Linked DNA regions of Homo sapiens. The protein of the gene in region 1 purifies or fractionates together with the protein of each later gene. This does not show direct contact. Each region holds a gene or a part of one and is shown in the gene's direction. Other genes may lie near its edges.

Evidence for each region.
Region 2: the proteins of MGARP (region 1) and SLC25A33 purify together in Homo sapiens (affinity purification with mass spectrometry; one large-scale study listed by BioGRID and IntAct). This does not show direct contact.
Region 3: the proteins of MGARP (region 1) and HEATR6 purify together in Homo sapiens (co-immunoprecipitation; 2 studies listed by BioGRID and IntAct, with this or other methods). This does not show direct contact.
Region 4: the proteins of MGARP (region 1) and SLC39A11 purify together in Homo sapiens (affinity purification with mass spectrometry; one large-scale study listed by BioGRID and IntAct). This does not show direct contact.
Region 5: the proteins of MGARP (region 1) and MADD purify together in Homo sapiens (affinity purification with mass spectrometry; one large-scale study listed by BioGRID and IntAct). This does not show direct contact.
Region 6: the proteins of MGARP (region 1) and BTAF1 purify together in Homo sapiens (affinity purification with mass spectrometry; one large-scale study listed by BioGRID and IntAct). This does not show direct contact.
Region 7: the proteins of MGARP (region 1) and MTX2 purify together in Homo sapiens (affinity purification with mass spectrometry; one large-scale study listed by BioGRID and IntAct). This does not show direct contact.

The regions. Positions count from the first base shown.
Region 1 is NC_000004.12:139,277,426-139,281,398, reverse strand, and holds the start of MGARP (protein MGARP), read left to right. Parts: upstream 1-1,173; 5' UTR 1,174-1,240; coding exon 1,241-1,322; intron 1,323-3,973. UniProt on the Homo sapiens protein: Plays a role in the trafficking of mitochondria along microtubules. Regulates the kinesin-mediated axonal transport of mitochondria to nerve terminals along microtubules during hypoxia.
Region 2 is NC_000001.11:9,549,465-9,552,964, forward strand, and holds part of SLC25A33 (solute carrier family 25 member 33), read left to right. Parts: intron 1-3,500. UniProt on the Homo sapiens protein: Mitochondrial transporter that imports/exports pyrimidine nucleotides into and from mitochondria. Selectively transports uridine, thymidine, guanosine, cytosine and inosine (deoxy)nucleoside di- and triphosphates by an antiport mechanism.
Region 3 is NC_000017.11:60,068,922-60,072,421, reverse strand, and holds part of HEATR6 (HEAT repeat-containing protein 6), read left to right. Parts: intron 1-92; coding exon 93-207; intron 208-1,614; coding exon 1,615-1,716; intron 1,717-2,573; coding exon 2,574-2,711; intron 2,712-3,500. UniProt on the Homo sapiens protein: Amplification-dependent oncogene.
Region 4 is NC_000017.11:72,645,449-72,648,688, reverse strand, and holds the end of SLC39A11 (zinc transporter ZIP11), read left to right. Parts: intron 1-1,026; coding exon 1,027-1,105; 3' UTR 1,106-2,740; downstream 2,741-3,240. UniProt on the Homo sapiens protein: Zinc importer that regulates cytosolic zinc concentrations either via zinc influx from the extracellular compartment or efflux from intracellular organelles such as Golgi apparatus. May transport copper ions as well.
Region 5 is NC_000011.10:47,290,633-47,294,132, forward strand, and holds part of MADD (MAP kinase-activating death domain protein), read left to right. Parts: coding exon 1-184; intron 185-1,910; coding exon 1,911-1,964; intron 1,965-2,857; exon of another isoform or gene 2,858-3,250; coding exon 3,251-3,351; intron 3,352-3,500. UniProt on the Homo sapiens protein: Guanyl-nucleotide exchange factor that regulates small GTPases of the Rab family. Converts GDP-bound inactive form of RAB27A and RAB27B to the GTP-bound active forms.
Region 6 is NC_000010.11:92,024,770-92,028,269, forward strand, and holds part of BTAF1 (TATA-binding protein-associated factor 172), read left to right. Parts: coding exon 1-198; intron 199-1,822; coding exon 1,823-1,982; intron 1,983-2,360; coding exon 2,361-2,531; intron 2,532-3,500. UniProt on the Homo sapiens protein: Regulates transcription in association with TATA binding protein (TBP). Removes TBP from the TATA box in an ATP-dependent manner.
Region 7 is NC_000002.12:176,268,214-176,272,241, forward strand, and holds the start of MTX2 (metaxin-2), read left to right. Parts: upstream 1-1,228; 5' UTR 1,229-1,416; coding exon 1,417-1,456; intron 1,457-2,000; exon of another isoform or gene 2,001-2,196; coding exon of another isoform or gene 2,197-2,206; intron 2,207-4,028. UniProt on the Homo sapiens protein: Involved in transport of proteins into the mitochondrion.

The DNA.
Region 1 (3,973 bases):
AAAGGGAATAATTGCCACCTCCCTCAGAGGGTTGCAGTGAAAATTAAAAGAGATAATAGATGTGAAAGTGCTTTATAATCTTTCAAGTGCCAAACACACATAAGGGATTATTATAGTAGGAAATGGTGTCTTCCAAAGAGTAATCATTTAGACAATGTTATAAACGTAATAAATTATTGGTTTCCATATTCAAACCATGACAAGTTCTTGTAGCCACGATGAGACGGAAAACTAATAATTTAGTATTTTTAGTTGATGTGTTTTTTTGTTTTGTTTGTTTTGTTTTGTTTTTGGGGTTTTTGTTTTGTTTTGTTTTGCTTTTGAGACAGGGTCTTGCTCTGTCACCCAGGCTTGAATGTAGTGGCATGATCTCGGCTCACTGCGACCTCCGCCTCCCGGGTTCAAGCGATTCTCCTGCCTTAGCGTCCCGAGTAGCTGGGATTACAGGCCCGCGCCACCACTCCCGGCTAATTTTTTGTATTTTTAGTAGAAACGGGGTTTCACCATGTTGCCCAGGCTGCTCTCCAACTCCTGACCTCAAGTGATCCGCCTGCCTCGGCCTCCCAAAGTGCTGGGATTATAAACGTGAGCCACTGTGCCCGGCCGCTGATGTGGAAATATTAATTTCACATCCCATAGAGGAATATACAGTGTTTTTGATATTTTAAAGTCGTTTTAACAGTGAGCTGTCTAGAAATTCAACCATTGTCTGCAGATTTTCTTACGATTCTGAGCATCACCCAGTGCGCTAATGGAAGGCTGAGGCTACCCCTTCGCTCTTCTCATTTTTAAGAAACTTCCAGCTATCCTTCCCTCTCCTAGGAAAGCTAACGGAATGCAGGAGATAAAATGGTTTCAGATTACATCCAGCGTGATAAACTGTGTCCTTGTCTTAATCTCGTCCAATTCCCAAAACATTTCCAGCTTGCTGTGAGGAGTTACATTCAGTGGTACAGAATGAGCCAGGCAGGCGACGGCGACTTGTAGGTTCCCCATCCCTTTTCTGAGATGCCGCGGTCAGCTCTAGAGACCTCAGGGATAGCAACAGAGCTGGAGATGGGTTAGGGGAGGATGGTGAGGACTACAAAGGTCTCCCCACCTCCCGGGGGCCGCGGAGGCGGGGCTGGATGAAGGTCGACGTGCCTCCTCCGGGCGGGGCGCTGCCAGGCTCTCAGCCTCTCTGTGGAAGGGCAGCCTGCGCCTGGGTACCGAGGCTGCTGCGCGGCGGACAGCGGGCGCGATGTATCTCCGCAGGGCGGTCTCCAAGACTCTGGCGCTGCCGCTGAGGGCGCCCCCCAACCCCGCGCCGCTCGGAAAGGACGGTGAGTAAGGAGGTCTAGCCCGGAGAGGAGGACGGGCGCCTCGGGTGCAGATTTCGCCCGCGCCAGGGAACCGGCCGGCACCCAGTTGGCCAAACCCGACCCAGAGCAGCAGAAGCCTGGATTGGAGGTCGAGGAGACTGGGGGAGACTCCCGGGAAGACGTCCCGAAGCTCCTGCAGACTTTGGAAGTAGGGAACTTTTCCAGGGTGCCTCAGAGTCCAGATTATCTGGGTTCGCATCCTGATCTTGGACAAATGGCTTAACCTGTTTCCTCATCTATAAAATGAGGGCGATGATGGTTTTCCTTTTTAATGAGTTAATGTATGGTTAAAAGCACTTAAAAACGTGCCTGGCTGACAAAGTCGCAGCTTACCACTTTTATTGTTAGAGGCACCATTCGCTCTCCAATCTCCTGAGGAAGCAGAGGAACGGTGGGAAGGTGGACGCCGATCAGCGAGCGGGCCCGGCAAGCGCTGGGAGGCAGTGAGGCAGGGCCCGCTCAGTGGACGCTGGGCGAATGTTCGTGGGGTAAATAAACCTAACCCTTGGCAGGGTCTCAGCAGCCTGAACCCCGCGAGCGCCTGGCTCTGAGATCCACAACCCCCAAAAAGGAAGCGGCCTTCGGGACACTTTCCTTTGAGGTTGCACGTCGTCCTGCAACTGCTTGGCTCTGTAGTCCAAATATCGACACCTTTGGTTCTGAGGATACGCGAGAAAAAGCAGAATACTCAGCAATTAACTAAAGGGGGAGTTGCAGTGTGAACTGGAGGCTTATTAAATAAAAACGGACATATAGGAAAGCGCTTCGTATAGTGCTGGGAACATAGTAGGTGCTTAATAGGTGTGAGCAAGGAAGATTGTTTTTCTTCTGGGACCAGGCTTGCGCTCCAGGGCGGTTCTGCCCCAGCCGCTTTTCCCTAGTCCCCATCCGTCACCCCTCTCTCTTCCACTCACGACTGGGGGACGGCTCTTAGACAATATCGTGAAGGGTTCTTAATGCTCTCTTCACTTAGCCTCACTTTCTGAGCCTTCCGAGATAATTTTACCCCAGAGGGTGGATTCCAGCAGGAGAGAAAGATGTGCGCGGAGAATTCCATGGGCCGATTTTTTTTTCACGTTGATTAGGCCTCTGTTGGTGGTGGTGGGAGGGAAGGACGGAGGTCTAACTAACTCGCTTTATTTTTCTTGTAAAATGCTGGTGGAAGGAAGTTATCCCTCAAGTATCAGAAATAAGACATCTTCGTTTTCCTAGATCTTTATTGCCTTTATTTTTCTAGATCTTTATACCAAATGATATAGAGCTTTTAAATATATATATACACTGATGAAGTAGGGAGAAGCCATTTATTTTAAACTTCGGAAGATAACGGGACTGTTCTGTTGAGAACGGGGAGAAAGATTAGTCCTCTGACCGTGGCCTTTCGTTTTATCTGTCTGCGTTCCCCACCGACATCATGCGCGCGTGCACGCACACACAAACACACACACACACACGCGCACCTTTTTTTTGTAGCTGCAGAAATTCCAAATAATTTTCTTCCCAATTTGCGGCAAAATAGAAGTAGTTTAAAAATTTTAAATACGTATCTAGCAATGCTGCTTGTAAAGGTACTGGTCTTTCTCTGATTTTCATCTAACTATTTTTGCAGCACTTAAAATGTATTTAAGAACTATTATTGATTGGAAACAAATTTGTCTTCAGTCGTGGACATTACTTAACCTTTTGTTCATACTTTCTACTTTGATGAAAAATAATTTTTTTCAGTTTTATTGAAGGAAAAATTTTTAACTGTGTCTCATCACATTTTGTTCTCTCCTTTTTGCTTTTAAAAGGGTAATTTTATTTTTTTGAGACAGAGTTTCACTCTTGTTGCTCAGGCTGGAGTGCAATGGCGTGATCTCGGCTCACCACAACCTCCGCCTCCCGGATCCAAGTGATTCTCCTGCCTCAGCCTCCGGAGTAGCTGGGATTACAGGCACGGGCCACCACACCCAGCTAATTTTGCATTTTTAGTAGAGATGGGGTTTCTCCATGTTGGTCAGGCTGGTCTTGAACTCCCAACCTAAGGTGATCCACCTACCTCGGCCTCCCAAAGTGCTGGGATTACAGGTGTGAGCCACCGAGCCCAGCCTTAAAAGGGTAACTTTTTAATGAATAAATAATTTAGATTTATAATAGATAATTGGGGAAAAACAGGTAAAATAAAAAATGGAATTCACCTGTAATCCTACCACTCAGTGAACACAACTAATTACGTTTTAGTATATTTAGTTTTCCAGACCTTTTTTTTCCCCTCATTCCTTCCTTGTGCACATTATTTCCACAAATCTTGGATAGTCCCAGAGTATTTTGCTATGACTTTTCACCTAATACATTGTAAATATTTTCTCATGTAAGTAAATATTGTTCTGCAAAAGTTATGTCTATTTGTTTCACATTGTATGAATGTGCTAAAATTTGTCTAATTAATCCTTATTGAAAAATTTCTCATTTCATTGTCTTTTTAAGTAACTTGTCCATCATTGTATTTGTATTTAAGTCTACTTAAATCTCTGGTAATTTTAGTTCTATTTAAAAAATATTTCTGATATTTTTGTCTGTTTGAGAAATATGAAGGCTATATATTCCCTATTTGATCACAGATGTACTTT
Region 2 (3,500 bases), on another chromosome or scaffold:
ATGGGATCAATGGCGGGGAGGAACTGATGGTGGGATCAACGGGGGGGATGAACTGATGGTGGGATCAATGGGAGTTCCCAGTGTTGGGGCTCATAGTAGGTTGAATGCCATCTACAATGAAAAAACATTCACCAAGGCCTCCAGTACATCACAAACCTTTTTTTTTTTTTTTTTGATACAGAGTCTTGCTCTGTCGCTCAGGCTGGAGTGCAGTTATGCGAGATCGGCTCACTGTAACCTCCGCCTCCCAGATTCAAGGGATTCTCCTGCCTCAGCCTCCTGAGTACCTGGGATTACAGGCACCCGCCACCACACCCAGCTAATTTTTGTATTTTTAGTGGAGACAGGGTTTCAGCACGTTGGTCAGGCTGGTCTCTAGAACTCCTTACCTCAAGTAATCTGCCCACCTCAGCCTCCCAGAGTGCTGGGATTACAGGTGTGAGCCGCCACGCCCAACATATATATATATATATTTCTATATATGTATCTTTATATATATATTTCTATATATGTATATATATTTTTTCTATACATATATATATATATATTTTTTTTTTTTTTTTTTTTTTTTTTTGAGACGGGGTCTCACCCAGGCTGAAGTACAGTAGTGTCATCTCACCTCACTGCAGCCTTGACCTCCTTGGGTTCAGGTGATCCTCCTAAGTAGCTGGGACTACAGGTGTACACCACCATGCCTGACTAATTTGTTTTTGTTTTTGTAGAGACAGGACTCCAGCCTGGGTAACAGAGGAAGACCTTCTCTCTTTAAAAAAAAAAAAAAAAGTGAGTGTGGCCTGCCACCTTGAAAGAGGTCACTGATTCGCTGTTACTAGGGCATTTGCTTTTTTGGACGAACACACCATCCTTTGATCAGTGGCATAGACTTGGATGACAGTTGGCCAAAGTAATGAGTGCAGTTTACTTAGGGACAAAGCAAAGGTGGTTGACCTGTATGGTATTTGAACTTACTGGCTTTCTGATGAAAGGATTTACCCAGAAGCTCTTTTTCAATGATTTGGAGTTACGTTATCGAACACAAATAGATTTCAGATATTTCTTTATTTTACTACGTAGCTGGTAAGTTTCTCAGTATCTTTAAATGTTATACTTTTTAGGCATGTGGTTATTATGACAGGTAGGAGTATTTTGTATGAATAGACATGGGTTAGAAAGTTTTTACGTCTATCATTTTTATTTTTATTAATTAATTAATTAATTAATTATTGAGACTGAGTCTTGGCTTTGTCACCCAGGCTGGAGGGCAGTGGTGTGATCTCAGCCCACTGCAACCTCTGCCTCCTGGTCTTAAGCCATCCTCCCACGTCAGCCTCTCGAGTATCGGGACTACAGGCGCACATCACCACACCCAGCTAATTTTTTAATGTGTATTCTTGGTAGAGACAGGGTTTTGACCTGTTGGCCAGGCTGGTCTCCAACTCCTGAGCTCAAGTGGTCCACCCATCTCGGCCTCCTAAAGTGCTAGGATTACAGGCATGAGCTGTCACACCTGGCCACTTCTATCTTTTTAAAAATATTCCTTATTATAGCCTATTTTCTTTAGATATATTCTAGTGCTTGGAGCAAATTACACAAACCAGTATTAAGCTAGGCCCACAACTTGATTAAAAATAAAAATAGGCCAGGTGCGTGGCTCACGCCTGTAATCCCAGCACTTTGGGAGGCCAAGGCAGGTGGATCACTTGAGGTCAGGAGTTGAAGACCAGCCTGGCCAACATAGTGAAAGCCCATCTCTACTAAAAATACAAAAAAATACAGCTGGGACCTGTAGTCCCAACTACTCAGGAGGCTGAGGCATGACAATTGCTTGAATCCAGGAGGCAGAGGTTGCAGTGAACTGAAATCGCACCACTGCACTCCCAGCCTGGGTGACAGAGTGAAACTGTCCCCCAAAAATCAATAGGTAAATAAATAAAATAAAATAATCCCTCATGGGGATTTTACTTCATTCGTTACTTTCAGAGTGTGCGTTAGGTACTAGGTTTGCTTCTAGATTTCCAACATTTGCCTCTAGTGGAGTAGGGAAGCTGCATAAACATTCTATATGTCCAGGCCTGTTTTTCCTTCCTGTCGTTGCCTTTCCCAGGCGGAGATGCTGGTGCTCTATCATTTTTATTGACCCACCTATTTTATGCCAGGTGCCTGCTACGCTCTAGTTGCAAGAATGTACAAACAGCTTTTCTCCAAGGAGCTCCCAGTCTAATGAGAAAGACTTTTTTTTTTCAAATACTTAGAAACCTTGGAAGACATTTTCGTTGAAATCTCAATTGAATAATTCCTTTGCTTAGTAAACACTGTTTAGGAACTTGTTGAGCCCTGATGCCAGGGATGGAAAGATAAGTAAGGCCCCAGGTCTGAATCTTGAGGAACTCATCAGATTATAGAGCGATGTTTTCCAGAGTGAGGCCTGTGTCATTGGTAGGCATGGGTGAGGATGTGTCTATGGCCCTTGACATTGTTAATTATAACTAGCCCATCGAACATGTTATTTCATTGGTAGAATTGTTTAAGAGATGATGGAAGTAGGTATTTTAGGATAAATAAGTGAGTTGCCTTGAAGAAAAATATTTAAATAGTAATTCAGGTAATATCTCGATATGAATATAAGGGTAATACTCAAATGATTGGCTTAGGGGAACCCTGATCCAGAGAGACAGTGTGAGTAATGAAAACACAGGATTAACTGATTAGTTGTGAATGAGGGAAACACAAGGACTTCATTGTTGAAGGTGATTAATCAGATTTTTTTTTTTAAGACAGTCTTGCTCTGTCACCCAGGCTGGAGTGCAGTGACACAATCTTGGCTCACTGCAACCTCTGCCTCCTGCATTCAAGCTATTCTCCTGCCTCAGCCTCCCCAGTAGCTGGAATTACAGGCATTACAGGCATGTGCCACTACACCTGGCTAATTTTTGTATTTTTTTTTTTTAGTAGAGATTGGGTTTCACCCTGTTGGCCAGGCTGGTCTCGAACTCCTGGCCTCAAGTAATCCACCTGCCTCAGCCTCCCAGAGTGGTAGTATTACAAGTGTGAGCCACAGTGCCTGGCCGAAAGTAATTAATCAAATTTTAAGAAGGGTCTGTATTGGAGTAAATATTGATTTTCAAAATAGTATCTTCACCTGAATGAACTATTTTGTTTGAATGTGCAGAAATACTTTTCTAGAGTATTCATTGCAGCATGGTAGTGAAATTGGAAATTACATGAATGTCCAACAGTAGGAAATTGGTTAATATCTTATCAATCGATAAGGCAGAGATAGTATGAAGCCATTGGAAATGATGAAGCAGGTGCATAATTTGCCATAAAAGGGCACTCAGAATACCTAGATACTGGGAAGGGGTTAGGTGAAAATGCCAAGAATGGAAAGCCCCAAAGGATGTGCTAACGTGGGAATAGTAGTTACCCTTTAGCTCTGGGATTTCAACTTTTTTTTTTTTTTTTTTTTTTTTTGAGATGGAGTCTTGCTCTGTTGCCCAGGC
Region 3 (3,500 bases), on another chromosome or scaffold:
ATAGTCTATATTACTGCTATTTTTAATTAGTCTTTTGCAAGCCTCATTTTAAAGGAGACTGAGTTTGAGTTGTTTTCTCTGTATGCGTTTAGTGTGCCAGGACAGCCGTATTTGGAGGAGCCCTACCAAAATGTCTGTTTCCAAGCTTTTCTGACTATTTTACAGTCTCCAAAATCATCTGATATGGATGATATCACATTTTGCATGGTAAGTGGACTATCATTGACGTAGTGAATGTTGCGGATGTGTCTAGAAGCAGATTGGAAAAGTGTTACTAACGAGTTTAATTTGCACCATTAGCTTCGTCTAGAGAAATACACATATATGAAATGTTTGTAACCTAAAAAGACTAAAATCATACCATTTCGGTTTAAATTATAAGAAGCTTTTTATTTGTTATATTTTGCAATTCTAGATTTTTAGAGGAAACTATTCTTTTTCCTTCTGAGTATAAAAGCAATAGTTGCAGGCTAGTGACTATCTTTAAGATGAAAGTAAAGAGAGATTTCACCAAATATATCTGCAATATTTTATTTCTTTTTTAAAAATACGATGCAAACGACAGTTTATTAACATCTTTTAAATTTAGAGTAACACATTTCAAATGTTATATAGCTGAGATAAAGTTCCTTCTAGTCTCCTGCTCGGATATAGCCACTGAAGACAATTTGTGCTGTGTGCCCTCAGATTTTTTTTTCTATATGTAAATGAGCATAATTACAGCTTTAAGTGGGATCATATTTAACATGCTGTTTTGTAACTTTCTTGTTTTGTTAAAACTTAATATCTCTGGGACATCTATTCGGTTCCTGTTAATATACCTCATAGTTTCTAACTGCTATGGCTGGAAGACCTTGGACAAGTTAGTTAACTTCTTGGAGCCTCTGTGTTCCTCCCTGAAAAGGGACTGATATAACCACATTGTGGGGTTCTTATGAGAAGTATATGAAATAAAGCATTCAAAGGGCCTACTGTTATTGTTGTTGAGTTTTACATTTAGCAGAGGGTTAGCTTCTTTTATAATCATTATCATAATCATCAAAATTGAAGTTTTTAAAATTTTCCCACTATTTCAAACAAGGCTACAGTTCACATCATCCCAATGTCGGAAGTGTTTCTTAAGGAGAGAGTTCTAGAAATGAGATTACTGAGTCAAGAAATCAATCTTGGTCAGAATTGCCCTCCAGAAACCAAGTTTCTATAATTTATCAGCAGTTCCCACATACATCCCCTTGCTTTTAAGAGGGCTGGGTTTGCCATATTACAGAGCTTTCCCAATTCTGATCTGTGCTATCTTTTTTATCCCTTGTCACATTTTTCTTGCTAAACATCTTCTCTCTTTTTTCTTGCTCACCATTTGTACATAGTGGTTTATAAACATGTACAATAAGACCACTTCATTATTCTTTTCTTCTAGAAAAGAATTCATGGTAGTTTATTAGGTCTCCTTAGATCTTCATTTCTGCTTTGTGTGTGTATATGTGTGTCTATAATAAAGTTTTTTTTCATCATCTAGAGACTGTCTCTCTTCCATCCTAAGTGGTGCTAGTAAGTTGATTCCTGGACAACCAGATTTTATTCTGCCTTCTAACTGGGTCTCCCTTTTCCCCCTAGTTATTGCAAAATGCATTAAAAGGTATACAGTCACTTCTAAATGGTGGGAGAATGAAACTAACACAGACTGATGAACTTGGAGCACTTTTAGCTGTGCTAAAGGTAAGGCAAGTCTTCATATGATCATTGTCTTTCCTGTTTCAACCCATGGTACAAGGACCACTTTACATCCTTATTCTAAGGCTAACTTTGAGGTATTAAAAGTTCTTACATATATTTTGAGAGAGTAGACAAAAATGTTCATATTCAAAGACACTTAATATTAAGAACAGAAAATAAATCTCCATTTAATAAATGCATCAAAATTTTAAAATTATTTATGAATCTTAGGAAGGGAATCGGTAGGGGAGTATGACCTATAGAATATTTAATTATAGACTATGTTGTACTTGTTTGTACAAGAAGAGCCAGTGCTTCTCCTTGGCTTTCTCCTCCAAGTAGTAGACAGGCCAACCAAGACGTGTGTCAATGGGCAGCTTCCGAGCGTGCCAGTCAGTCGGAAAGTCAGGCCAGCATCTCTGGGGACCCAGCTTCTTCAGCCAGCAAAGTAAGAAGTAATTCTTTCCTTGTGGCATTCTCTTGCTCCCACATCAAATAGAGAGATAGCTATAGGTGGAGATAGGTAAATAAAAATGATAAATTTGTTTAAAAAATTATAGACAGATAAAGTAATTGGATAAATTTTATAAATAAATAAGGAAACTAAAACCAGACCTGATTTGATCTGACCAAACCAAATCCAGCTGGAGGCCAGATAAACTTCAGCTCTTCTTTAAGCCCTATGCCTTCAAGGTATCTATTTTCTATCTCATTTATATTTCCTTAGTAGGCTTTTGAACATTATCTATGAGTGTTGTGATCCAGACATGGTAAATAGTTCTATTTTATGATTAATGGTTTATGATTAATGGTTTTTTTGGTTTCGTGTGTGTGTGTGTGTCCTTATTCATCATTATTAGAAATTCATGTTTCACGGACTCCCTGGACTAAACATAGAGATGCCCACGGTGTTATACCCAACTCCGCTTCCTCAGTATGATGGGCGAACACCTATCAAACCACAGCAATCAGAATCCAGTGCTTCTCGACCAACTTTGGTACATTTATGTTTATTTAGATTTAAGTTGTGGCTTATTTTTAATAGATTGTTGTGTGTGTTTTCTATGATTTGCATCACTACTACCCTAAAAGCCTACCTTGAATTTTATTTCAGTTTAGGGTTGTTAGCATAGTAAATTTAAACTCATCTGATGCTCAAAATACCAATTAAAGCATCTTATACTTCTTAGAGGTGTAGTCAGTATAACAGCTATAAAAATGAGCATTCACTTTATACCCCAAACCAAGCATTCTCATCCCCATGATGCTCAAGACCAGGAGTCAACAAACGTTCTCTAAACTTTCTCTACTAGGCTAGTAAATACTTCAGGTCTCTGTCATAACTACCAACTCTATTGTAACAGTGCAAAAGCAGCCATAGACACTATGTAAATGAATGGGCATGACTGTGTTTCACTAAAATTTTATTTACAGAAGCAGGCTGTGTGCTGGGCTGGATTTGGCTTTTGGGCCATAATTTGCCAACCCCACTCTAGACTGTTAGAAGCCCACCTACCAGTCAGCGCACCATCTCCACACCTTACATTCACCTGATTTCCCAGCCTTTCCAGAAGCTGCCATCTCCCTCGTGCTTTGGTTGGAGAACCTGGAGCATACAGATGTATGGCCAAGGATTCACTTCCAGAAATGTCATACCTGATCAAAGTGCTTCTTATTAGAAATTATTTCACTCATTCACTCACTCAGCATTTACCCAACATCTGCTGTGTTCCAGACGCTGTGCTAAGCACTAAGTATATAGACTCTGGCTGCTTTTAGGAGTTTGA
Region 4 (3,240 bases), on another chromosome or scaffold:
GCCCCTTCCCAAGATCATCCCCACTGCCTCCTCAACTGTGCTCTCTGAAACTAAAAGAAAAGAAGCTAAGGGCATGTGGGTCAAGAAATGAGGTGACACCAGGCAGTGGCATACACACCTGCCCCCCGTCCCTTGATGCAGTAGACTATCGTTTTTGTATATTCTCTCTCATCCTGTCTCTCGATTCTCGGGCTGGAATGAAGGGAGAGGTGAGCTCTAAAATGTCAGTGAAGGTGATACATGCATGTCTTCACTGGCTAGCTATAGGCCAGGTGTCAGAAGGTGGGAGTAAGGGTTTGCTTTGTTCCATTTTGTTGTTGTTTTGTTTTGTTTTGTTTTTCTTTTTTTTTTTTTTTTTAATGGCAGAGTCTCGCTCTGTCACCCAGGCTGGAGTGCAGTGGTGTGATCTCGGCTCACTGCAACCTCCGCCCCCCAGGTTCAAGTGATTCTCATGCCTCAGCCTCCCAAGTAGCTGGGACTACAGGCAACCACCACTACGCCCAGCTAATTTTTGTATTTATAGTAGAGACGGGGTTTCGCCATGTTAGCCAGGCTGGTCTCAAACTCCTGACCTCAGGTGATCTGCCTGCCTCGGCCTCTCAAAGTGCTGGGATTACAGGCTTGAGCCACTGCTCCCAGCCTATTTTGGTTTTTATAGAAGAATAACTCTGAGGCTAGTTTAAAAGGCCAGATTAAGTAATATCTTTAAGAAATAATCACCCCTCTTCATTACTCACACATGGACCACAGAACGATCATAGGTGACCTTGGGCAAGTAACTTCTCTTTGCCTCAGTTTCCCCACCAGTAAAATGAGGATAATTATGATACTGACCTCATGAGGTTGTTGTTTGGGGTTCCATGGTTCATTAGTTTGCCTGGCACATAGTAAGCCCCAGTAAATGTTACCATTATTAATGGTAGTGTGCTTTCTCTTGGAATTGGACATTGCAGAGGATGCCTTCAGCCTAGCCGTGGCCTCAGGGATCATTAAGGTCTTACTTTTCTTCCTGTCCTTCTCTTCCAGTGGTAATGGGAAACTGGCATCCTGGGCCTCCATCCTGGGATTTGTAGTGATGATGTCACTGGACGTTGGCCTGGGCTAGGGCTGAGACGCTTCGGACCCCGGGAAAGGCCATACGAAGAAACAGCAGTGGTTGGCTTCTATGGGACAACAAGCTTCTTTCTTCACATTAAAACTTTTTTCCTTCCTCTCTTCTTCATCTCATTATCCTGATTGACTCTGATTATAATAGAACCATTTTTACTTTGCTTTGAGGGAGATTTTTGATTTAATGGGGAATTTTAAGGTGTCATGGAAATACAGATTCTTTGTTTTGGCCACTGAATGGACTCTCTCTTCAGTGGGATTATCAAGGAACTTCAGATCAGGGAAATCTCCACTTCGGGACCTTCTATCTGCCTCCCAACTCCTCAAGGTCACCTATAGAAGCGAGCTACCAAAAGACGTCTCCTAAGCATTTTGGTGGCCTAGTGACTCAGGGCAGAGTGGCCAGCACACCTCTCATCCGCCCCTCCTGCTCCATCACTGCTGAGCCTCTCCCCATCTAGAATGTTGGAACTGGAGCATCATAAAGATAGCAAGCTACCTTCCAAGGCCGAGCCAGCCCAGAGAGGAGCATGTCTTCCTTTACCTCCCCCTAAGGAGATACTACATGGGAGGGGGACACAGAAAAAGGGAAGGAAATTGGCTAGTCTGGCTTTTTTTTTTTTTTTTTTTAAAGGCAAAGATTGACATTATTGAAGGAAAGGGGATGAGGACAACTGTGAACTCACAGTGAGCCCTGTGGAAAGAAGAGACAGACAGAGTGTGGGTTTGTTCGGAGGCCTCTGCTGTCAATGGATTCCAGGAGCAAGGCCATTTGTCGCGCTTTCCAAATTTCTTAGGCATTTATTTTGATAAGTTTATAGCCATCATGTTTCTAAGAGACTTGGAGACACCAGCAAACTGCTAGAACTCAAACTCTTCAATTACTCAAAGAAGGAGCCATTTCAGTTAACTCAAGTGAATGAAAGAGTTTTGGAATCTGCTGTGGGTCCTTCCCTGTTGACCATTTGGTAACTTATAATCTGACAAAAACTCTTGAGCTGCAACAGGCCTTGCCAGAGGGCTCAGGATGGGAAAGGAAGAAGGGGATAGGAAAAGAAGAGGTAATTTTACATTTCCCCTTTAAAGTAAATTTTAGCCAACTCATCATTCTGAAATGTCCCTATAAAGAATGAGTCGAACTAGACCAGAAGCCAGCCTACTCCTTCTTACATAGCTTCTCCAACAGGGGTAGCAATGACCTGTCCACTTCAAACACAGATAAGGCCTGCCATCCTCATTGGTTAAAGGCACACGTGAGACTTTCAGTGGGCTCTGCTGAGAAGGAAGGCAGCCCAGGAGTCAGGTATGCAGGCATTGCATTGTCAGTGTCTGCTCTCAGAGTTTACACATTCAATTGCTTCCAAGGGTGAATCTCCTGCTCTGTGAATGCTATCAGACCCCAAAGGCCAACCTTGGGCTGGGTCTATGTACGTTCTTCCGAAGCACTGATGATCAAAATTGAAGACACATTCAGAGGTTTGATTGGTTGAGATTAACTGGTGTGGTGGTTGGTGTATGTATGTTTTATTTTTATGTCTTTGTATGTAGTTCTACATAATGCAAATTGTGCTTTCTGATGGACAAGACCTCATAACTGTGATTAATATCAATAAAAAGGGGATGTTGTGGATGACCTGTGTTACGTTCAGTACTTCTCAAAGCTGCTTCTTTGCAAGGATGATCATAAAAGAGCTAACTAAAGTTGGAACTAACACCTCCCTGATCCAACACTAGGAGAGGCAAAGGAAAGAGCTCAGATGGGAAGGGCTAGTCAGATTCTTGGTTGCAACAACAGCATCCAACAGCAGCTTACTTAAACAGAAAAGGAAATGAGTGGAAGCCTGTTAGGGAATTCACAGGCTCTTTCGGAGAATCGGGCTTGAAAATGGGTTGGATCCAAGAAAGCCAGAGGTCTGGGGCCATGACCCAATCACACCTGGAGAACAGCTTGGTTTAGATGCCATGGTCCCCAGAGCTGGTCCCTAGATCCTGGACACCACTAATGAAACTGCTGTACCTTGATGCCACCACCACTGCCGCCACAAGAACAAACTCTACACTGAGCTGGATTCTTTGTGTCCTGGCTCCACATTCGAAGTTCTAGATCAGAACATCCAGCTGCCAGAGCTT
Region 5 (3,500 bases), on another chromosome or scaffold:
CCAACAGAAAGTGTAAATACCCCAGTTGGCAAGGATCCTGGCCTAGCTGGGCGGGGGGACCCAAAGGCTATGGCACAACTGAGAGTTCCACAACTGGGACCTCGGGCACCAAGTGCCACAGGAAAGGGTCCTAAGGAACTGGACACCAGAAGTTTAAAGGAAGAAAATTTTATAGCATCTATTGGTACGTATCAGTGTGTTTGGTGTGGTGGAGGGGTCCTGGCTTCTTAAATATCCCTTTCTCCTCAATTCATCCAGAATCCTGCCTTTCTCTGCCCCATGCTTTGCTTCTTAGAGAGGGAAGGGGGCCTGTGTCCATTTCTGGTGGTGTTTCTTTGTACTTCTCTAGTCTTTATGCTTCATCCACAGCCACCCCCCACCCCGTATCTTAGATGAAGAATGGTAAGTTTTGTTTAGAGGGCCCAATGAGGCTTACTGCAGGGGGTGTGAGCTGTACTCCTGGCCCCTCCTTTTATTTACGTCTGCATTTCTTCACATAGTGGAGAGAATTCCTGGAAGTGCTCAGGAAGTTTATAGATGCATTTTTGGGCTATAAAATTATGACATTTGTGTCTCTGAAGCCAGTGTCCTCCCATCCAACCATTATACTCCTCTGGAATGTGCTCCTCTGGGGCATGCCTGGCAACCCCATTTCCCTGGGTTCTGGATCTTTGAGGTATAGGTTTCCAAGTCAGTTCTTTAAATGCTTCTTCACTGGACTTGATTATAATCTCGTTTACATTTGGTGTTTCTCCGTTCCCACAAAGGCAGTGCCTTAGTGAGCTTTCTAGGCATCACCTCTGTTTGGCTCACTCCCTGCTTGACCTTGAGTCATCGAGGTTGGATCTTTCTTTTTCTGGTTCTAGGTCCCTAGGCACTCTGCTTCCAGCTGACATCTCATTGCCATGGCCATTAGCAGTTGCCATATGCTCCCATAAATGGTGACATGGAACCAGATTCCTTTTTAGGGGAGCTACACTTCCCTAGCCAGCAGAATATTATTCTAGTAGCAGTCAACTCCTGGCTTTCTCCTGCCTCATGTGATGTTGTAGAAAATGTACTGACCTGCTAGTCTGGAGATCTGGAGTTTTAGTCCCATATCAGCCTCCAACTAGGAATGCAACTTTGGGCAAATAACTTCACCTCTCAGGGTATCTGTCTCTTCATCTGGGAAATGAGGAAATCATACTAAGTACACTCTGAAGTTCCTTCCAGGAAAAGAATTGCTGTGGTTGCCATTCTGTCTGCTTTTCCCTATGAAGATGCTGGTCTTGACCATTTTATGTTCTCTGTCACCTCAACTGGAGGCATTTTTCCAGATCACTGGTGGGTAGGGCAGGTAGGGGTGAGTTGGTTTCTTGAGGAGCAATGAGGAGGGATGCTAACTGCCTGCATGAATTGGCCTTTGTTCAGTCCAGTGAATCAAGCAAAGATTGGTGTTCTTCCTTCTGAAACTCTGGCTGCTTGAGGTGTTCATCTGTCTCATCTGGAATCTGAAAAATTGCCCTTCCCCAGCTCATTTGGTAGAGAGAGTGTGTGGCATGGTGGGAGTTTAAATGGATCCTAAGTTACATGATCTTGATCAAGTGCTCCAGCCTCTTTAGGACCAGTTCCTCATGCAAAAATGAAGGAGCTTTGTTAAGGGCACTTCCAGCTCTAACATTCTGCAGGGTTTTTACTGCCACATTGGGATTGGAATTAGAAATTTGGAATCTGTTCATGAGTTTGGGTGGAGGGGTTAGATCTCTTGTTTTCTGCCCCTTCTCCCCATGAAGATATCTTTGTATCTCTTGGTTGGTAATCCAGTGCCTGAGACTGAATCGACTTGGGTGGGTGGGTTTCCATTTCGTCTGTCTGACCAGCCTCTGACTTTCTGTCTTTCTCTCCTGCTTGCATTGCATCTGGGGTAGAATTGTGGAACAAGCACCAGGAAGTGAAAAAGCAAAAAGCTTTGGAAAAACAGAGTAAGGAACAAATGCCCTTTCCTGTTCCCAAGTCCTCCATACCTGCCAACTCCCCAGGCCCAGTTGGGGCAGGCTCCCTTTGTCAGCCCCACCCCAAATTTGCTCTTAGAGCGTGTTTGGAATGGCAGCAGGTAGGTAGCATGTGACTCCTAGGTGTGTGTAGGCCGCTTCTTTCCCCCTCCCCTCGTGTCAATCAGGCTATAACCAGGTGTCTACTGAATACAACTCCCCAGAACTTGGTTCTCTGTTGCTTCAGAGTTGGTGGGGAGAATGTTTGCCTATTTTAGTGCCCCCCATTGGCTGATATCTCCCACACCTGTTAGAAGGCCTGTGGGCACAGTTGGCAGAGATGGTTGCTGTCCCTCCATGTTGAGTCTGTAGCTGCCCCACTCTCTGGTGGCTTGCCTAGGCACGCTTTCTTGCTTTCTGTCATTCTGTCTTTCTGCCATACCATTGTGGGTGGGTGGGGGACAAGGGGGGTGGTTTTCATCTCAAACATAGAAGTTGTAGGATGGAGGTAGGCAGTGCCCACCAAAACAGCTGGTGTTTCTTATCTCATCGGGCCCAACCTTTTCTACCTCCTTTAGACACATTTGTTTGGGAAGCATTAAGGGACCTGGGGACCATTAAATGGTTTCAGGTACCAGTGAAGCTCAGACTCTTGAGTGCCATGGAATGTGGTTTAGACATTTGTTCGTGGAGCTTTTCTTTTTTTTTTTTTTTGAGATGGAGTCTTGCTCTGCTGCTCAGGCTGGAGTGCAGTGGTACGATCTTGCCTCACTGCAACCTCTGCCTCCAGGGCTCAAGCAATTGTCGTGCCTCAACCTCCCGAGTAGCTGAGATTACAGGTGTGCATCACCACGCCCGGCTAATTTTTGTATTTTTTGGTAGAGACAGGGTTTCATCATGTTGGCCAGGCTGGTCTCAAACTCCTGACTTCAGGTGATCTACCTGCCTCAGCCTCCCAAAGTGCTGGGATTACAGTCGTGAGCCACCATGCCCAGCCTTGTGGAGCTTCTCTGTTTTAAGATGATTTGCTCAGAATTTTCTCAGGTTGAGAAGATGGCTGGAGAACCCATTGAGACCAGGTCTGATTTGTCCTACTTGGTTCTTAAGGCATCTGGGGTCCTCTTTTTCCAGTGGGTCCTGAGTGGGGGGTAGTCCTTGGAAAGGTGACTAGGATGGGCTGAACGGGTCTGGGAACAGCCTGTGCTGCCGTCCCACCCCCTTTACCAGCCTGCCCCTAGCCTTTGTGCACGGAGTAACAGAAGTCTTCCCCTACTCAGGGCCTGAAGTAATCAAACCTGTCTTTGACCTTGGTGAGACAGAGGAGAAAAAGTCCCAGATCAGCGCAGACAGTGGTGTGAGCCTGACGTCTAGTTCCCAGGTTTGTGACAACCTTGTTGAAATTTGCAAGTATTAAATATGCTGTCTCAGAATACTTCTTTAAGTTAAAATAGAACAGTCAGACAGCCGGGCACAGTGGCTCATGCTTGTAATCCCAGCACTTTGGGAGGCCGAGGCGGGTGGGTCACC
Region 6 (3,500 bases), on another chromosome or scaffold:
CGGTTTGGGAAATGGCAGCACTTCCGAGAGTGGCACAGAGTCTGTTGTGGCCCAGCACAGGATACTGATATTCTGTCAGCTGAAAAGCATGCTTGATATAGTAGAGCATGATCTCCTCAAACCTCACTTGCCCTCTGTCACTTATTTGAGATTAGATGGCAGCATACCTCCTGGTCAGAGGCATTCCATTGTTTCCCGGTAAGTGGCTTCTAAGACTCTTATTCATAAATAAATATATTATTACTTACATAGAAGTTTGCCCCATGAAATATTTTCATTGGCTAAATATCTGCAAATGCATTTTTTTAATTGTGTAATTCACCCCAAATAAACCCCTTTTTAACTATAGAACTACATAAATATAATCGAATAGATTATTTGCTTAGCATATGAAAAGGGTGTGACTGTAATAGAAAAGCACTCTGAAGAGCATGAAAGAAATTTAAGGCATCAACCAACAGTAAGGATAACTACTTTCCCCCTTACCTTTTTGGGAGAATTAGGGTGAGAGGAACCAAACAAGTGGCTTAGCTAAAATCTCCATCCTAATCCCTGTTTGTGCACTGAGAACAAGTTGGAATCTGGCCCAGCTAGGAAGCAGAACTGGTGAGTGCAGTGTTCACATGTGGTCTGCAGCCTCTACTTTTAAAATCTCAGTGGTTGCTTTTTTTTTTAAAAAAAAAATGCAGATTCCTAGGTTCTGCTTAGTCCCAAAGCTGCTGACTTCAAGAGTAGCCATTTTTAACAAGCATCCCAGCTGAGCGCGGTGACTCATGCCTGTAATCCCAGCACTTTGGGAGGCCAAGGTGGGTGGATTACTTGAGGTCAGGAGTTCAAGACCAGCCTGGCCAACATGGTGAAACCCTGTCTCTACTAAAAATATAAAAATTAGCTGGATGTGGTGGCACATGCCTGTAATCCCAGCTACTCTGGAGGCTGAGGCAGGAAAATGACTTGAACCCGAGAGGCAGAGTTGCAGTGAGCAGAGATTGGATTGGGCCACTGCACTTCAGCCTGAGCAACAGAGCAAGACTCTGTCTCAAAAAAAAAAAAAAAAAAAAAACAAGCATCCCTAAGAGATCATTAGGCACAATAAAGTTAGAGACCCGGGGAGGGACTTTGGAAGCCGACAGGCTCAGGTTTGACTCCTGGCTCTGCTATTTAAGCAGTGTTCTCTTGAGCCTGTTTATCATTCACACAGCCTCAGTCTCTCTAAAATAGGGATATTGGTAATAATACCCTTATAGAGCTATTGTAACAATTAAATAAAATAATGCATATAAAGTACAAAGACTATTGCTTGACTTGTAGTAAGGATAATAAATCGTAGCTTGGTAGCTGCTATTTTTAATGTTAGTTTTTTCTTTTTCCTAGAAGTTACTAGATATCCTTTGTCAGTGTCTTCTAGGACTAGTACAGTAGTAGCAACCCTAACACTCTCACCTTCTGTCGTCCCTGAATGAAAGTCTAGCCTGTTCTCACACTTCTCTGTCCCCATACTTTAAAGGTTCATAGTTGGGTTTATCTTAATTATAATTAGCATTTAATTATATTTTTGCAAGTTAGTCCTTACCTGATGTTACTAAATTCAATGCAGTTTGCCTTATTTTGTATTTATGAAATTCCTGAATAGCTTTGGAATGCCCTCTTTTACTAAAAACGTTATACATATTGAGAGGATATTTTTCTCAGATGATCATGTAAGTATCCCTATTGTGGATTTTTAAAGCAGCATTTTCATTTGTGCTCTTTAATTTTTATTAACAGTTTCTGTTATAGGACTTAAGAATGGACTAATTTTATTTTTGTTATCTACTTTTAGGTTTAATAATGATCCATCTATAGACGTTCTGTTACTTACCACTCACGTTGGTGGCCTGGGACTTAATTTGACAGGCGCTGACACAGTAGTATTTGTGGAGCATGACTGGAATCCTATGCGAGATCTACAAGCCATGGACCGGGCCCATCGCATTGGGCAGGTAAAAGTCAATTTTACCTCACAGATGTTAACCTGTGCATGAAAATATACTCCCCCAGAAAGATAGGAAACCTTGGTTTAGTTCTTGCTCTGGTGTTAACATACATGTGTTATGACCTTGGACAGATCACTTAACTCTTCTGTGGTATCACTTCCTCATGCATTAAATGAGGTGCTAGCACTTAGGAAAACCTGGATCACTGTTCATCCCTAATATTCTGTGATTGCTGCACACATTTTGAGCTCATGTGGCCAGACAAAATAAAAATCCAACCCTAATTAGGTAGTATAAAATAGTACAAGTCTACAAGCCCTCTGACTCGTTGGAACCTCAAAGCATAATATGTGTTACGGTTGCTTAACTGTTTTTCTTATCCAGAAACGTGTGGTTAACGTATACCGATTGATAACCAGAGGAACATTGGAAGAAAAAATAATGGGGTTGCAGAAATTCAAGATGAACATAGCGAATACTGTTATTAGCCAAGAGAATTCTAGTTTGCAGAGCATGGGGACTGATCAGCTTCTTGATCTGTTTACTCTTGATAAGGTAAAGAACTTACACAATTTGTTGTATCTTTGAGTCACAGGCTTCCTGTGACTGCTAAGTTGAAAGTATTAAAGGAGCAGCAAAATGCGTTTACTTTAGTATCCATGAGATCACCACTGGAGGGAATTTTTGGTGCCTAGATAAATTCTGCAGCATACTAGGGGATGTGTGAAGTTTTGATTTTTTTTTTTCATTGATGTCTTCAGTGTCTTGCCACAAGGTTTCTTTCCTTAGTCCTTTTCTGCTAAAGCACAGCTTATCACTGGAGTCAGTAAGACTCATGGGTGAGAGTTCTTGGCCCTGCCTCCTGTTAACTGGTTACCTTAGGCAGATTATCTCTCTGAGCTTCTATACCTATTTTACTACATGGTTGTGATGTAAGATTATATATGTAAGCAGTCAGAAAGGATATCTAGTGTAGATTCTCAATAAATAGTAGCCATTGTTATTGCAGATGATGGAACTAATACATCAGATAACAATCTATAATCAAAAGGATGCACCACTTGGAAATATTAGTGAGTCTAATATTGTAAAACCAATATAGTTGGATTTAAAGTCCTACATAGGTTCAGAAAATCCACTGCATACTTAGTATAAATTATGGTGGGGTATATGATGATTAAAACTAGCTGTAATAACAGAAGTGTACTTTCAAGTAAGAGAAAATCGTTCTGCCATACTATGTGTATGTTAAACCACATTTGAAATATGTCTAGTTTGGGGAGCTACATTTTAAATGGTAACAAATTAAGTCCCTGGTGGCCAGAATGGAGGCAGGTTCTTCAATCATGTCATATTGAAAGTCAAGATAAAGTTGAAAGAATGAGACATGTTTAACATAGAAAAAAGAAGGCTCAAAGAAACATGCATAGCCGTCTTCAAATAGCTTTTATTCTGTTTGAAGGAATATTCTTATGGGTGACTTTCAGTGACCAGAACTGGGCTCAGAGGGATATTTTAGGGAAA
Region 7 (4,028 bases), on another chromosome or scaffold:
CCTTGCAAGACAGCATGGCCCTGCTGACACCTTGATTTCAGACTTCTAGCCTCCAGAATTGTGAGAATGAATTTCTGTTGTTTAGCCAACCAGTTTGTGGTAATCTGGCAGCTCTAGGAAACCAACCACGCTAGTTAAGGAGGCAGAATGAACAGTAATAGAGATCTACGGATATAAAGAATGGAAATATAGCTTTCTAAATGTCATGGACAGTAATTCTTAGAATACAGGTTTCCTCTGCAAAAACCTAGTAAGCTGTCTGACTTTTTGATTTACTGTGTGATTTAAAATGAGTTACCTCACCTCTCTGAACTTGTTTCTCATCAGTGAAGGGGGCTTTGGGTTACCAGCTCTGAAGCCTGTCCCACTTGTAATACCACCAATCTGTAATGCATATGATTTTTCTTTAATTGTGTAATTTAAGAAGCTATTAGGTTAAGACAAAGTTACTCAGGGAATTTAGTTTCTCCTCTTCCTGCCCCGTTCACCCCCGAAAGGTGAGAAGTGTGTGAAACTAAAGTATCTTATTCTCCAAGCTGAGCATCATTTCGGGTGTATGGAGTTGAAGGACAAATTACCTTCTGGCTTAGGCGCTGCTCAAGCCTCCTTTCTGCCAAGCATGTTTGAATAAACAACAACAACAAAAAACACTAATGTCTATCCACGGACTAATCAACCCAGCAATATAATGGAATAGAGGGAATTCATGCAGCCTTGAATCTGGTCCTTGGAGGACTGCCTGGGCAGGCAGTTTAAACTCCTTAAGCCTATATTCTTATCCGTAAAATGGCGATAATATTATTACTTTAATGGGTTGTTGAGAAGACGAAGTCAAATAGAATATATGTGTATATATATGTATATATGTGTATATATGTACATGTGTACATATATACGTGTATATATTATATATGTGTGTATGTGTGTGTGTATATATGTATATATGTGTGTGTAGATATAGGTATATAAGTGCCTGGTATCCAGTGGGCGTTTACAAATGTTACTCGGTTACAAAATTCTGGCTTACAGAAAGGACGCTAAAAATCTCCCAGATTCCCCTGCCAGTCCCCTGGGTGGGAGACGAGTCGGGTACTTCGCTTCCACCTGCGGGCCCCCAGCGCAGAGCCTGGAATTGGCTGGACGGAGCTAGCCGCGCCGGCGCCCCGTAGGACGGCGCGGGGGCGGGGCCGGCGGAAGCGCTCGAGTGCCGTTGTCGGCTGCGCCGGAAGTCCCTAGCCAGGCCTGGCGGTAACCTTGGGGGCCTCACTGCAGCCGCCGCTGCTGTTGGAGTGGGCTTTGCGAGTCTGAACGTTGGCGGGGCTAGGCTCGTTAACTGCCGAGAGCCTCCGGGTTTGCGGTGGAGGACGCTGAGGCCCGTGGGGGGCAGGCACCCGGGCGCCGGGCCTCCCAGCCGACATGTCTCTAGTGGCGGAAGCCTTCGTCTCCCAGATTGCAGGTAGCGCGGCTGGCCGCAGACCCAGAAGGTGGCGGCGCGGTCTCGGGGAGCCGCGTGGGGTACAGGGCTGGAGCTTTCCTCCAGCCTTGCGGCATTATACGCTGAACCCGGCCCGGATGGTGGAGGCGGGCACGGACTACCAACCTTATCTCACATATGGGAAAACTGAGAAGGAGACACTTGGCCAAGGTCACCCCGCAGGAGCAGGAGTCCCGTCTCCTTCCCTTGGGCGGTACTTTGTCCCACCTCCCCATTCAGTTGGGAGGTGCTGGAGTATGAGGGGGAGGCCTTGGATTGGGATTGAGGTGGGGGGCGTTACCACAGGGGCAAGCATCTGAACGCTTCAGTCTAAGAGTGGTGGCAGTTTCTGGGTCTTGGTACTCAAAAAGTTTAAGGTGACTGTCACTAATCAGTTGTTACCTATTGTTGAGGGAACACCAGACTTCTTGCTTCGTCTCCCAGCGACACAGTAGTGCCATTTGCTAAGACTCTAGGAGTTATTTATTTATTTATTTGTTGAGACGGAGTTTCTCTTTTGTCACCGAGGCTGGAGTGCAGTGGCACAACCTGGGCTCACTGCAACCTCCGCTTCCCGGGTTCAAGCGATTCTCCTGCCTTAGCCTCCCGAGTAGTTGGGATTACAGGCGCCCGCCACCACGCCCGCGCGGATTCATGGAAAATTTTTAAATCTGCATGTACTTTAAAGAAATACTTTTGAGTCGGTGGACTGAACATGACTGATGTATATAGGTTTGTAATTTCTCTTATTGAGGTTTTTATTTATTGTAATGAAAGAAATTAAATATTGTTGAGAAAGTGAGGAGACTAAACATAGGTACTTTGAGATAGAGGCTAATGGAATTAGTCATAACTCCCTAGCAGTGTTTTCAACATGAGTACAGTAATGAAGACAGTCACCACAATAAATAGGTACATTTGAAGTAATAAGATAGTATTTTGGAAATGGGAAGTACAGAATGTGTCATAAAATTTGCCGGAATGTTTTTCACTGCTTTGCGTTTGTGTGAACGTACATTTCTTTTTTTTCCTTCTTCACTTAAAAACATTATTTTTTAGAGGAGAGAAGCTCCTACTAGATTGCAAGCTTCCTGAAAGTAGGGATCAAACTTGTTTTGTTCCCCATTGTATCCATAGTCAGTTGGTGCTCAATAAATATTTGCGACCCAAATCAATGACTAATCTTGAGATTTCAAGCAATGATTATTTCTGCTTTTACCATTTATGTTGAAACAAAATCAGGCTTATATAGTTAGATCAGCGATTTAATTTAGTTTGCTACTATGTTGAAAAAAAAAACTTCACAGTGTATGTTGAGTGGTTCACTGTGTGCATGTGTCCTAATATGTGATTTCTTTTAATGAGAAAATGATGAATGTCTTTTAATAAACTTTGGATACTGCTTTAAGTAGTGACGTTTAAAAATTTCTAGGCATTTTGTCTGTCTGCCGTCTTAGCTATTTGTAGTGATCTGTTACTCTAGGAGGAAGCATTTAAAAATGGATAATTCAATAAATGGTGTTGGAACAACTACTAAGTCATTACACCACATGAATAAATTCCAGATTGATTAAAGATCTAAATATAAAACAACAAAATTGTAATAAAATAATTAGAGGAAAACATAGATTATTTTAATAATCCTTGGATAGCAGAAGAGGCCTAAGCAAAACTTAAGAATTCATAATCCATAAGAGAAGAAATTGGCAGATTTGATTGCCGAAAAAATTTTAAAACTTTGATAAAAGACATCTCAAGTTAGTACAAATAAGAAGACAAACCAACAGAATCAAGGACAAAGGATTGGAACAGGCATTTCACAAAAGGGTGAAATATAGATGGACAGTGAACAGATGAAAAGATGTTCTCTGTCCCTAATAATGTATAGCATCCTCCCACCCCTGCCATCAGATGGACAAAAGTGAATATGATTTCTAGTACTAATAGGGCATGGGGAAAAGTTACTCTCAAACTATTGGGTCTGTAAGTTAGTATTACTTTTTGGGAACGTAATGTAGCAATATTTATTAAAATGACATTCTCTGGCCTGAAAATTCTACTTATGGGGGTTTATCTGATAGAAATGTAAAGACCAGTACTTAAAGAAATACACAATGATATTAATTGCAGCATTATTTGTAATAGCGAAAAACTAGAAATGTTTTAAATATATGTCAAATTATTGTACACCAATCCACCAATTCCACTTCTGGGCATGTATCCAAAGGAATTGAAATTGTCTAAGAGGTATGTGCAGTCCCATGTTCATTGCAGCAGTATTCACAATAGCCAAGATATGGAAGCAACCCAGGTGTTTATCAGTGGATGAATGGATAAAGAAAATGTATATAAGATACAATGGAATACTATTCAGCCTTAAAAAAGAAGGAAACCCTATCATTTGTGATAAAATGGATGGATCTGGAGGACATTATGCTAAATGAAATAAGCTAGACATAGAAAGACAAGTAGTGATCTAAAATCTAATCTTTTTGGGGAAATCTAAGAAAGTTGATCTCCTAGAAACAGAATAGAAAGGTGGTTACCAGAGGCT